2 separate regions of the Homo sapiens genome follow, and region 1 is linked to region 2. The links come from fine-mapping of genetic effects on gene expression. Tissue or cell type: visceral fat. Region 2 holds a variant in brackets; the other region holds the start of a gene. All regions are shown on one strand. Distances are between the middles of the regions.

Evidence for each region. PIP is the estimated chance that this variant, and not a neighbour inherited with it, causes the effect.
Region 1: it holds the start of SEPSECS-DT, and the variant in region 2 is fine-mapped to the expression of SEPSECS-DT in visceral fat (GTEx, PIP above 0.99).

Annotation. Positions count from the first base shown.
Region 1 is chr4:25,157,653-25,165,320 of GRCh38, forward strand. SEPSECS-DT (SEPSECS divergent transcript) reads left to right here and starts at 3,020. Exons shown (of 2, transcript NR_037934.1): 1 at 3,020-3,101. It overlaps SEPSECS (Sep (O-phosphoserine) tRNA:Sec (selenocysteine) tRNA synthase), which reads right to left and starts at 2,797. Exons shown (of 11, transcript NM_016955.4): 1 at 2,604-2,797; 2 at 1,301-1,455. The coding sequence starts at 2,717. RefSeq lists a silencer at 2,481-2,650 and an enhancer at 2,761-3,060.
Region 2 is chr4:25,130,353-25,135,352 of GRCh38, forward strand. The region is part of intron 8 of SEPSECS (Sep (O-phosphoserine) tRNA:Sec (selenocysteine) tRNA synthase); the gene reads right to left. Among named protein-coding and RNA genes, the nearest start is that of SEPSECS, 28 kb to the right of the region's middle. RefSeq lists enhancers at 1,201-1,727, 1,728-2,254. The variant A/G (reference allele first, on the strand shown) is at 2,071.

The DNA of each region.
Region 1 (7,668 bases), 29 kb after region 2:
TCCTGCCTCAGCCTCCCGTGTAGCTGGGACTACAGGCGCCCGCCACCACGCCCGGCTAATTTTTTTGTATTTTTAGTAGAGACGGGGTTTCACCATGTTAGCCAGGATGGTGTGGATCTCCTGACCTCGTGATCCGCCCGCCTTGGCCTCCCAAAGTGCTGAGATTACCGGCGTGAGCCACCGTGCCCGGCCAAATTATCTTTTTTCTTTACTTTTCCCCTAATTCCACACTGGGCTAAGTTCCAATGATGGTTCAAATATTGCCTTAATTTTAAAAGAACTATATGCTCCTAGAAAATCAGTGTGCAAATCTCATTTTAAATTAGACAATATTATACATTGTTTAAAGATACCTCTCAATACTCTTTAAAATAAAAAACCCTTTCGTAATTTGAGTAATTTCTAATTGACAGTCAAATATATCAGAAATTCGGTATAGGAGGATTATCGAAGAATACTAGTGCTGTACTTCCTCACCACTGAAATCTCATGTACAAAACATTTCTTACATATATTATCAACCATGTTATCAGCAAACTGTTAACTGAAATTTTCATCCAAGTTAGGCATTATCATCAGTTTTGACTGCAGTGGTTTTTACTGAAATACAAATTCTACGATGCCCAGGAAATTTTCATTATAATGTAAAAGCATGGAAGACAGGAGTTTCATTTAAAAGAGTTTACACTTCACAGAAAGGTTAGTGGACAGAGCAATGAGTGATCATATTAACTACCAATTAACTACCAATTAAATCGTTATCAGAATTGATGAAAAGCTTTCTGCAATAATGCAAAAGAAAAAGGTCACTTAATAATCTAATACACCTTTCCCTGTATCTATTGCAACAGAGGTATTTATAAAATGAGATTCAGTTTAAACACAGTTTAAAACAAAATTTAAAGTTGATAACTATAAATCATTCAAAAAAAAAAAACACTACAAATGTTAGAAAAGAAATATGGAAAGCTATAAACAACCTTAATGGATTTTGAACTCTTACAACCAGATATGTTTATTAGGGTAACCGTTCCTAAGAAAACGTATAGCCTGTGTTAGTCACCCAGAACCTGACAGGGTAACCCCCACTTAGTTTTTACTCTATTGTCTTTGAAAAGCACCTGCTGAGATAAAATTGTTTCCATCTCCCTGTTGCATTTGGCTTACATATCCATTAGAGCAGGGAAGAAGTGGTTTACAAACTGACATTTGATAATCTAATAAGATAAATACTGCTGCCATTATTTTGAACCAAAAATAAATAAACGATGTATCTCCTGTACTACTTAAAAAAAGATACCTGTAATGACGACGAGCAACCAGTGCGGATGCCACTCTCCCTTCCCTTTCTCCCACACCACAATTGCCTAAGAAATTGTTGCTGTCCATGATTGCAAGTTCATGTAAAAAGAGTTCAAGTGTACTTTCATCCCAGCCATTCTCTGGACACTTGCCCTTAAAAAAAAAAAAAAACTTATGATTATATTTAATAAAACTACCGTTCTCTAGAATACTACAGGAATACAGTTTTTCTTTTTAACGTGTATTTTGCCACGCTGCTTGTTTTCTAAAATTCAAGCATAAATTCACCACTGTATAGAGACCGCAAAGAGGCAAAACGTTTGTACATTTGATTACAATTATTTACAGATTTCGAGAAGTGATGATAAATGCATACAATGAGGTTTACTGAGATATTTAAATTTCCGTAAGTGAAACTAACTGAAAACCAATACAACACATCCCCAGTGAAGATGCTTCAAACCAGGGCGTTACGACTGGGGCGGTGGGACGTGGAGAAGGGCGGTAGTTGTCAAACTTCAGTGAAATTTTGGCCACGCGCTGTAGCTCACTCACGCCTGTAATCCGAGCACTTTGGAAGGCCAAGAATGGCCGATCACTTGAAGTCAGGAGTTTGAGATCAGCCTGGCCAACATGGTGAAACCCCATCTCTACTAAAAATACAAACATTAACCGGGTGTGGTGGCGGGCGCCTGTAGTCCCAGCTACTCGGGAGGCTGAGGCAGGCGAATGGCGTGAACCCGGGAGGCGGAGGCTGCAGTGAGCCGAGATCGTCACACTGCATTCCAGCCTGGGCGAAAGAGCGAGACTCTGTTTCAAAAAAACAAAACACAACAAAACTTTTAATGAAATTAAAATACATGAACGCTGGCAGGAGGGAGACCTGTGAAGTTCCGCGGAAAGCTCGTGGTTCGAGTTAGCATACAGTCTACAAACACCATTATGTGTTCTGAGTCGTTGAGGGTTGGTGAAAGATGGAGGTGCGAACTTTGCCCTTTCCGCGAATAAAAAAGTACACTGGGACTTTCCCTCACTTCCGCATCCCGAAGTTAGAAACAGCGGGACTCAAAACCCCGACCCCAACACCCCCTCCTAACAACACCATTTGGCTTTCACTGGCTTTGGCAAGGCTGAGAAGGCACAGACCGCAGTCGGTCAGCTAGGGCAAGCCAAGCTGAGACAGACTTGGGACTAGTCTCAAGCAGCGAAGAGCTGCCGGTGAGGCAGCACCAGCGGGGACGCCCGGCGGAGCCAGAGCCCCGGGGTCGCGGCGGCTGGGGAGGGGACCGACAGCTCGGTACCTTCTCCAGAAGCAGCCGTATGAGGTGCTCATGCGAGCGGCGGGCCTCACAGCCCTGCCGCACGTAAGCCGGCGACACCAGCCGCTCTCCCGCCGCGAAGCTCTCGCGGTTCATGACAGCGGTGGCGACAGTGGCGAATAAGCGGGAGCACTAGCTCCACACGCCAGACACACGACGGAACCAGAATGCAACTCGCCGCCTGGACGGTACGGCAGCGCCTTGGGACAAAAAACAAAACAAAACAAAACAAAACAAAAAAAACACTTCTCGTTCGTGCACATGCGCAGACCTTCTCAGATGGCGCTCCAGGAGGAAGTTGGCGTATTTGAGCATGCGCGAGGGAGTCCGCGCTTTTCGCTGACTTTTGGCAAAGGAAGGACTGAAATTAGCCCCGCCCCGCTGCGGCTGATTCGTCTAGTTAAACCCTGGTGTTCCTGACACAAACTTCAGGAAAGGATTTTGCACTTGTGCAGACCGGGCGAGCAGAGTAAGAAGCAGGTACGTGGGTTTTTCCAAGTTCTGTGTTTCAGTCCTGTTGGATGGTTGAGATCTGTGCAGGGTCTGTGCTTCCGCCTTATTCAAACTGTCAGATGCCAGAACCTTCGATCTTTACTTTGATACATTTCCACACTTATTACTGCCTCACAACCCCATAGGAAATAGCAGTGCCCCACTCATTTTCCCCTTGACACTACTGTTTAGCCATAGCACTTACTACTCACCACGTGACATGCCAGACGTTTGTTTATACACACACACACACACACCCATACCCATGAATGTAAACTCTCTAACCTAACGGCAGGACCTCGGTTTTTGCTGCGGTGCCCCCTTCCCCCGGGCACCTAAAACAGTGCCCAGAATAAAGTAGGGCCTAAAAAAAAAGTTGATATTGAATTAATGAATTAGTTTGACCATTCTGAAACTATCCCCAAGAACATTTTGTAAAATTGATTAAGGAGGGGAAAAAAATCCAACTAGGCTTACAGCTGCTGTTATTAAGCCAGCTTGCAGTGTGGCCGACTTTCTTGTAGCTGGTTGCTACTTACTACCCCAGGAGAATGTGGCCCTTGTCACAAGACTCTTCATTCTTTTTCTGCTCTGAAGATAAAATCTAAGACATTATGAGAAGATAAGCTTTCTGTTTGCATTGCTTCTTTAGGTCCCGCATACCAACAAAACTAAGGACGCCAACTTGTCTGGAAGGCCCAATAAAAAGCTGATTCATGGAGGAATGCAATTGTCACATCCTAATGATTTCATCTCCCTTACCCCAACGAATCGATAACCCCAAATTTTCCAGCCCCTCACCCTCCACAAATCCCCTTAAAAAACTTTGCCTAGAACCCCTTGATGAAATGGATTGAAGCTTGAGAACTCTTCCTGTTTCCTGGCTTGTAACTTGTGATTATTAAAACTTTCTCTGCTGCAAGCCTGCTGTCGGAATACTGGTCTGTTTCTGCACAGCCGGCATAGGAACCTGGCAGTGCTGTAACAGTTCAACAACTTAGAGGTTCACTGCTGGAGATCCCTGCCTCCAGTTTCCTTACAATCTTCATCTTATGTGAGCCTACAGTAATTCCTGACATTGCTTTCACCTGGTGGTTTGTCCATTTGCACTGAGTCACACCCACTTGCAAGAGCTGATTGTTAAATGTTCAGTAATTTTGTGAGCTAGTTTTCAAATACAGCCACTCAAAAATTATATTACAAGCAAAAGTAAAAATACTCAAAATTTGTCACTTCCTAATTATTTTACATTTTACTATTATCTATGCTCTTCAGGTTATTTACATGCATTTTATCTATATGGTGGAAATTCAATGTAATGTTATACTACTGCACATCTTCCAACTCCTCTTTTGATGATGTCACGTTGGCCATGGTGGGAGCATTTACACCATGGAAATCAGTAAACACCGCTAATCAGGCCCTTACACTCCAACCCACTCCCCTAGAAGTCAGTTGTTCAACATGTACCAGCTCATCACTGTTTCTACTGCATGTTCCCATGGCATCCAGCTATTAATATAAATCAGTCTATTTATGGTATTTGTTGAATTGCATTTCAATTGTTAATTTTCTGTCTCAACTAGACTGTGAACTCCTGGTTCACAAGGGCTATACCAATATCTGTGTTCAAAGCACAGCACTAAATACATAATAGCTGTTTGATAAATATTTGTTGAATGACATAGAGCATTTAACTACTTTAAACAGAAAGGTAAACCACAAAACAACAAGAATTTAGCATACTTTCTAAAATGAGTATTTTTCAAACTTTTGGAAAGTTGTGTTCCTATTCTCAAAATGCAACTATTTTTGCAACTTCTTCTTTGGAAAAGCCTTCAAAGCTGCTTTGTCAATCACATGCAAAATGTGCAAAAATCCCAAAATTAATGTCATTACTGAATGGACACGCCAGGTTTTTGAGCCAGCTTCTTCTCTTACCTTATTCACCACCTTACTTCAGAAAAATGTTTGTCTGTTTCCAAAAAGTTAGTCATTGTCAAGATATGCATTCATTAAAGGTATTCAAAAGATACCAGCTTTGGAAGCAATTTCAAGAGAAGTATTCTAAAATTACTTTCATCCATTCACTCACCCAACAAGTATTTATCCATATGCCCATTTTACAGATCAGGAAAGCAAAGCTCAAGAAGTTTGAGTAATGTATTTAAGGTTATACAATGAGTGACACTAGCAGAATTTAAACCTGTGTGTTCTGGACCTATTTTAAATGATGCTATCTATTAAAAATAGTATGTAATTATTATTTTAAAATAGTAGTTTGTAACTACTATTTTAAAATAGTATGTAATTACTATTTTTAATAATAGTATGTAATTACTATTTTTAATAGGGCAACATCAGAATAACCTCATGGTCTTTACAAGATGAAGCATCATTTAAAATAGGTCCAGAACACACAGGTTTAAATTCTGCTAGGGTCACTAGTTGTATAACCTTAAATACATTACTCAAACTTCCTGAGCTTTGCTTTATCTGTAAAATGGGGATATGGAAGAGGCAGTTATGATGATTAAATGAGAGGTAATTGCTCAATGACATCTTCCCCTAGATAGACTGACTATACAAATGGACAATGGCCAGATCATATGTGATAACAGAACTCTCACCCACAACCTCTCTAGCAACTAGACTTCCAAACCACCACCTCTGCAGCAATCAGCCAAGAATGGTTAAGACTTGGGCAATGACTGCCAGCTTCCCTCTTTTATTACTCGCTTCTAACTTAAGACCAACCAGAGAAAGCTAAATATCCTCCTTAAATTACATAAGATGCCCTGTTTCTAGTTAGCCAACCTCTAGCTTCTCCTTGCCAACACCTCCAATCGGCACACCTGAATTCTTCCCTGTACCTGAATCTTTCACTATAAAGCTTTCCCACTCCCCTGCCTGCCTTTGAGACTCTTGACAAATGTAAATGATGGTGACTGACTCCCTTCTCTAGCACGCTCTGAATTTCCAGTTTTCCTGGAGACTTCACTGAGACATGGTCTGTGCTGTCCATGGCGGTGGACCTCAGCCTTTGGCCAGTTGTGGTGCCCACAGGGGCTCCTCGTGCCTTGTTGCTTATGGCTTGTCAAGTCCATGCCAACATGGTAAGTCAGTGCTGGCTTGGAACTCCTCCCTGTTTGCCTTGAGTTCCTAAGCTATTCATTTGAAGTTTGGTACTCAGATTTTGTTACTGGTTCCTATTTGCATCCTTAGTGGAATCAGGCAATTCCTTTTCATCCTTTGTGCTGTCCTTTGTACTTCTGTTTTGTATTGTGCTATCTAAAAGTGTTATTTTCCATAAGAAGGAGAATCATAGGGTAGAACATGGCCATGGGCCCTACAACCCTGTTGTTTAAGCCAGTTTCACAGACCGATGAGTTTGCAGTTCTCACCAGACTACATCCGTTTGGACAAATTTTGTTGTGGGTCACCAATAAAACTGGATGAAGTTCTCCCTTCATCTTGATTTTTTGTTCTGAGGGCTTGCTTTTGATCCAAAGAAAGAGGTCATTCTGATATTCTGCCTGCCAGGGGGCACAGATTGTTCGGTCTGTGTTCAAAAGGGGCAAAAATCAGGCTGGGGACTGAGACAGGATAAGCACGAGCATAACTTTCAACACCGTAGCCAGCTCTAAGTCTAAATCCTCTCCACCAGGAAAAACTTCTGCTTCTTATACATACTCTCATTACAATCCTAATGCTTGTGCCTATCTCTCTAAGTGGCATAACTTCAGCAATGAGGAGTTGGGCCTTCAGTGGCCACTCTGGGAAACACTTGACTTGACAAAATTTTTTATTTGATGGGCAAGAAAAGAAAGGGAATTAAGATTTCTTAGGTTTGATGGGCAACAGTTTTTTAGTGGTACACAGAGGCCTCCAAAGGAAATTCTGATTCAAGAATTATTCCACTAAAAGATGCTTTGGCTAAAGCTAACAAGCAATTTGACATCTTAAGCAACAACAAACTAGACTCATTTCCTAGTAAATCTTCCCCTTTGCGTTGGCTCCCTATATCCAGATGTCCCTCTTATCCCTTAGCCTTCTGATAGCTCTCTTTCTTCCCTTCCATCAACTCCCCCCTTCTCTTCCTCTTGTCCAGGACTCCTGCATTTTCCCAACAACTCTCCTAAAACTCTAAAATGTCAATTGCTTCTAAAGATCCCTCTCCCCTCAAAAGCCAGGTATGCAGGCAACTGCAGAATTTAAACTTTGCACCCAAGATGAATTAAGAGCAATAATCAAGAATTTCTCTACTTCCAAACAAGACCAGCAACTATTTATAGAAGAATTTAGGATTCATTTGAATGCATATGATTCAGGGTTACCTAACCTAAATATATCAATGTATACATATATTGGCCAGATCCTCAGGTGTTAAATCTTGGATTTAAAGAAAAGCTGATTGGACTGACATGAGAAGGGATCTACAAGGATCGCTTTTTCCCCAATAAACTTAAGCGTCTGAAAAAAAAAAAGCCCTGAAAAGTAGAACACAGCCTCCTAAAAGCAATATCCCAAACGTTTTCTATAAAAATCTGTTGTA
Region 2 (5,000 bases):
GCATACATGGCTATTAAAAAGTGAATTTGCCCAATGTTCAACTTCTAATACTTTAACAAATTAGTTTTTACCAGTTCTATCAATCACTTGCTAATGCCACTAGAATTCCTTTTGAACTGTAGGTAATATTAGGATAGTATTTTTAGACTACGAGGATAACACTAAAGTAATTAAATCTCGTATCACTAGTACGGGAGTAATTAGATTTAAAAAAATTTGAAGCAAGTTCACATCCATCAACAAATATTTACAATATGTTTACTCTGTGTAAAGGGTTATAAGTAAACCAATAAGCAAATATGTTTTAAATATCTTAAAGCACAATAGGCTGAATTCTATAATATTCCACATGTTAAGCTCCTAAATGCTCTCCTATTAATATTACTACATTTTAAAAATATCGTTTAGGAGACTATACCACTATCCTACACTAATACTTAGCTAAGCAGTTTTTTACCTGATATATTAAAGCTACTACCGAACCTGTACTATTTTTTGCTACAGTTAAATCTATAACTGGCATTTATTATAAAATACTTCTGTAAAGAAAGAAATTTATAAGCAACCCAAGCAAATGTATATAGAAAGATCTTACTTAAAAGAAATGAAATATTATTGATTTTCCATGTTCTCTGTGCTGTATTTAACTTAATTTTAAGAGACTTTTCACTAGAGATAAACTGAACTGTATACCTGAATGCTAATGTCAGCTATATTTCTAGAATAAAAATACAAAACTTTACACCACAGTTCAAGATGTTAATGGAAGAGAAGTTGAATTATATTAAGCATTATCTTTCATATGGCCTTTTGCAAATTGATTTGTAGTCATGAAATCCGACATCTAGCCCGTCTCTCCCAGAATCCAAAGATGTGCATAATTCACTAAATTTTATGTGAAACGGTCTTATGTAATCACACCTTTGGAAACATACTGTTTCATGTTATAGGATAAAATAAAAATGGAACCTCACATATTATTACAATATGTTTCAGAAGGCAGGTAATAAACCAAAAGAAACATACCCAGTAGTCTACTATTTCAAAGATAACATGAATGGATGGATGGATGACCGAGAGTAGGTAAATATTGAAGCAGACAGATGTCCATATTGGAGGAAAACAGTACTAAATATGACATGCTGCTGTCTATGACTGTGGCCACCTAAAAGGATCCAGGAGCAAGTGGCGAATCTTGCCTCAGAGGCTACACCCATCTGCATTCAAGTTGTTAAGGCCCCATATGTAGGCTTGAAATCAGATGCTTCTGCAGAGATTCAACTACTCCACTTACAGGGCTGCAAATCTAGTAGTGTTTTCAAACTTAGCTCTGCTATAAGGACACTGAAGTGTATGATGTTCTTTTAAAACTTAGTTTGTCCCCCAGTTCTTAGCTCACAAATTCCAGCCACTGAGCAGCCATAGTGCTGTTATTCTTCTTATCCAATTCAGCAGATATTTGCAACAATAAATGATTACCTGCCTTCCCTGTTCAGCAAAGCACTTTTCTAAAAGGAAAGCTAAACAGAATAATGATCTTCTCCAGAAGCAAAACAGAAGTGAGGATAAACTTCTAAGACCATAGACTTTCTTTCTGCATAGACAAACTAAAAGATACAGTCTTACATTTTCACCTCTTTTTTAAAAGGGGTTAAATTCATGGTTATTTCTCCCCTCAATGAAGCAAATGTGTTGATCAGGAAGGGGATAAGGGCAAAGAGGCTCAATTCACACACAGAGCTCCACTCTCTCTGATCCTTTCACCCTTCAAAAAAGAAAGCTTAAGAAGGAATGGCTTCAAGCTGAGTTCTTGTCTGCCACTACTGTGAAAAAGATAAAGCCTTTTCTGAAGAGATAGAGCTAGATGAAATAACCTCTAAAAATATCATTGTGGTGAATAAGGGCATAGAATGAAAAAAATTCTAAGTTTTCTTCTAACATTCCTTTTTTTAGTACACAATAACACCAATAATATAAAAAGGAGCTCTCAGTGATGGTATATAAATAGCTCTGGCTGGAGCAAAATAGCTTTGCCTCAGCTTCTCCAGAGCTGAACCAATAAACTATCAC[A/G]ATTAAATTTTCACAGTTCAAAAGCAAGTCCATTTAAACAAAAGAGGCCCTTATTTCTGCAACAAATCCAATAAAAAAACAATATTTATGCTACATATATGCAATTATGGTTTATGGAGGACATCCACATTTTTCAACAGAGAAACCTGCCTACTAAATGAAGTTGTTAAAAAAGCAAACTTTAACTTACAGTGACAGAGTTCTCAAATGGGCATCGTAATACTTTGAAAATTACTCCTAGAGATATTCTCTCTTATAAATTCTATACAGAGAATTTTAAATAAAACCAATTAGTACATTAGAGAGCTTTTGGGGTTTTACATACCTCCACTAGAGTGGGAGGGTCACAAGATCATCATCTTTATGGCTCAAATGCCTAGCACAGGGCCAGTGATCACTCCCTCAACAACGGATGAGTGACTGGAAGCAGTGACAAGAAAGTGGTAAGACGGAAAGCGCACAGACTTTAGCATCACACAGACCTGGGTTTCAATGGCAATTCTGGTACTTATAAGTGGTACTTGGGCGAGTACTTAACTCCTCTGGGCCTCAATTTTATCTGCAAAATGGGGATAATTCCTACCTCATACACTTGCTCTGGGTATTACAGGAAATAATAAGTACAATGAATCTAGCACAGTTCCTGGCATACAGCAGAGACATTCATAAAAATGTTAGCTCCCCACCCACCTATTTTTCCCCTAGCCTAAAAGAGTTCTCAGGATTAAAAAAAACTAAAGTTAGCTAGCAGGACTCCTACAGACACATGATAATACACTGTAGCTATAATCCTGTTCTTGTCCTGTTCCTGTTTATTCTACTCTACTCTATATATCTAGATAAAAGGAAAAGAACAAAGTTCTGAATGTTACAAAGAGAGTTACCTCCTGACATCTGAGATGAAGGCATCCAATTCATGAATACTACTCCAACATAAAATTTCTCCCATAAAGTGTTTACCCAGTGATAATAAAGAACAAAGTCCCAATGAAACTGAGCTGCCTGCTGGATTCATTTACTAGCTGAGCTACATATTCCTGCAGGTCATTTCCAAAGGAGATGGATTTTCACTCATGCTAAGCAAAATGTACACATGCATGGGCCTTTGGAATCAATCATCTACAAGTAGTCAAAAATCTTAAAGTCAAAATCCTAAATGTCACAAGACAGAACATCAAGACATAACAGAAATTCCAAAAAGATGACAAAATCCCTAAAATCAACAATTCCAAAATCTTAAGGCTAGAAAAGTGCTTCTGCTAGGCAGGAAGTACAATGCCTGTTATATACAACAGGTAATCTCCATTCCTTTTCACAAGTTTTTGACTATATCCATATAGTTGAATATTTAGAGAAATGTTTCTATAAGAACATAGAAATATACAGTAGATTATTCCCTTAAAAAAAAAAGGCTTGGTGCAGTAGCTTATGCCTGTATCCCAGCACTCTGGGAGGCTGAGGCAAGAGGATTGCTTGAGCTCAGGAGTTCGAGACCAAACTGGGCAACATGGCAAAACCCTGTCTCTACAAAAAGTAAAAAAAAATAAAAATTTAGACTGGCATGGCGGCATGCACCTGTGGACACCAGTTACTCAGGAGGCTGAGGTGGGAGGATCACCTGAACCCAGAGAGGTCAAGGCTGCAGTGAGCCATGATCATGACACTACACTCCAGCCTGGGTGACAGAATGAGACCCCATCTCAAAAAAAAAAAAAAAAAAAAAAAAAAAGTGCATAGAATTCACAATGGAAATCGGTATCAAAATATTATGTGCAACTGGACACAGAGGTACATGCCTATAGTCTTAGCTACTTGGGAGGCTGAGGTGGGAGGACTGCTTGAGCTCAGGAGTTCAAGCCCAGCCTGAGCAGCATAGCAAGACCCCATATCTTTAAAAATGTGTGTGTGTGTGTGTGTGTGTGTGTGTGTGTATAAAATTTGCTTTCTGACTAATTTTCCAGAAAGACACTTATTCTATATAAAATATGAGATGATTATACAACATTTGATCCAGGTGTTCTTAAATACCCTGTGTTCATACATTCAACAAACATATGATGAGCATCTACTATATATCAAGTAAGGGATGCTAAGAATAGAGGGATGGATGGCAAATTCCAAGGGGGCATTATTCTACCAAAGTACTCATAATTAAGGACCAAGTTTCATTTCAGACACATAATAGTAATTTTTTAGAAGAGTACACTCAAACTCTCAGTTTAATTTGCTAATTAAATAAGTTTAACTACAAAATTACTCAAGACTTACATTAGTTTATTGTAGTAAATATGGCATATTATTATTTTTATTTATGGTTTCGAAGTCAAGAACAAAAGCAAGAAATACTAAATAACATGCTTATTTGGCATTATAATGGCAGCATATAGAAATCTTAAAAGTGTCACCCCTCAGCAAATGCAAAAGAACTGAAATCATAACAGTCTCTCAGACCACAACACAACTAAATTATAACTCAAGGTTAAGAAACTCACTCAAAACCACACAACTGAAACTGAACAACCTGTTCCTGAATGACTCCTGGGTAAATAACGAAATTAAGGCAGAAATAAAGAAGTTCTTTGAAACTAATGAGAACAAAGAGATAACATACTGGAATCTCTGGGATACAGCTAAAGCAGTGTTAAAAGGGAAATTTATAGCACTAAATGCTCACATCAAAAAGCCAGAAAGATCCCAAATTGACATTCTAACATCAACTAAAAGAAGTAGACAACCAAGAGCAAACAAATCCCAAAGCTAGCAGAAGACAAGAAACAACCAAGATCACAGTGGAACTGAAGGAGACAGAGACACGAAAAACCGTTAAAAAAAAAAAAAAGTCAACGAATCCAGGAGTGGGTTTTTTTAAAAAATTAATAAAAAATAGGTAGATTGTTAGCTAGACTAATAAGAAAAGAGAGAAGAATCAA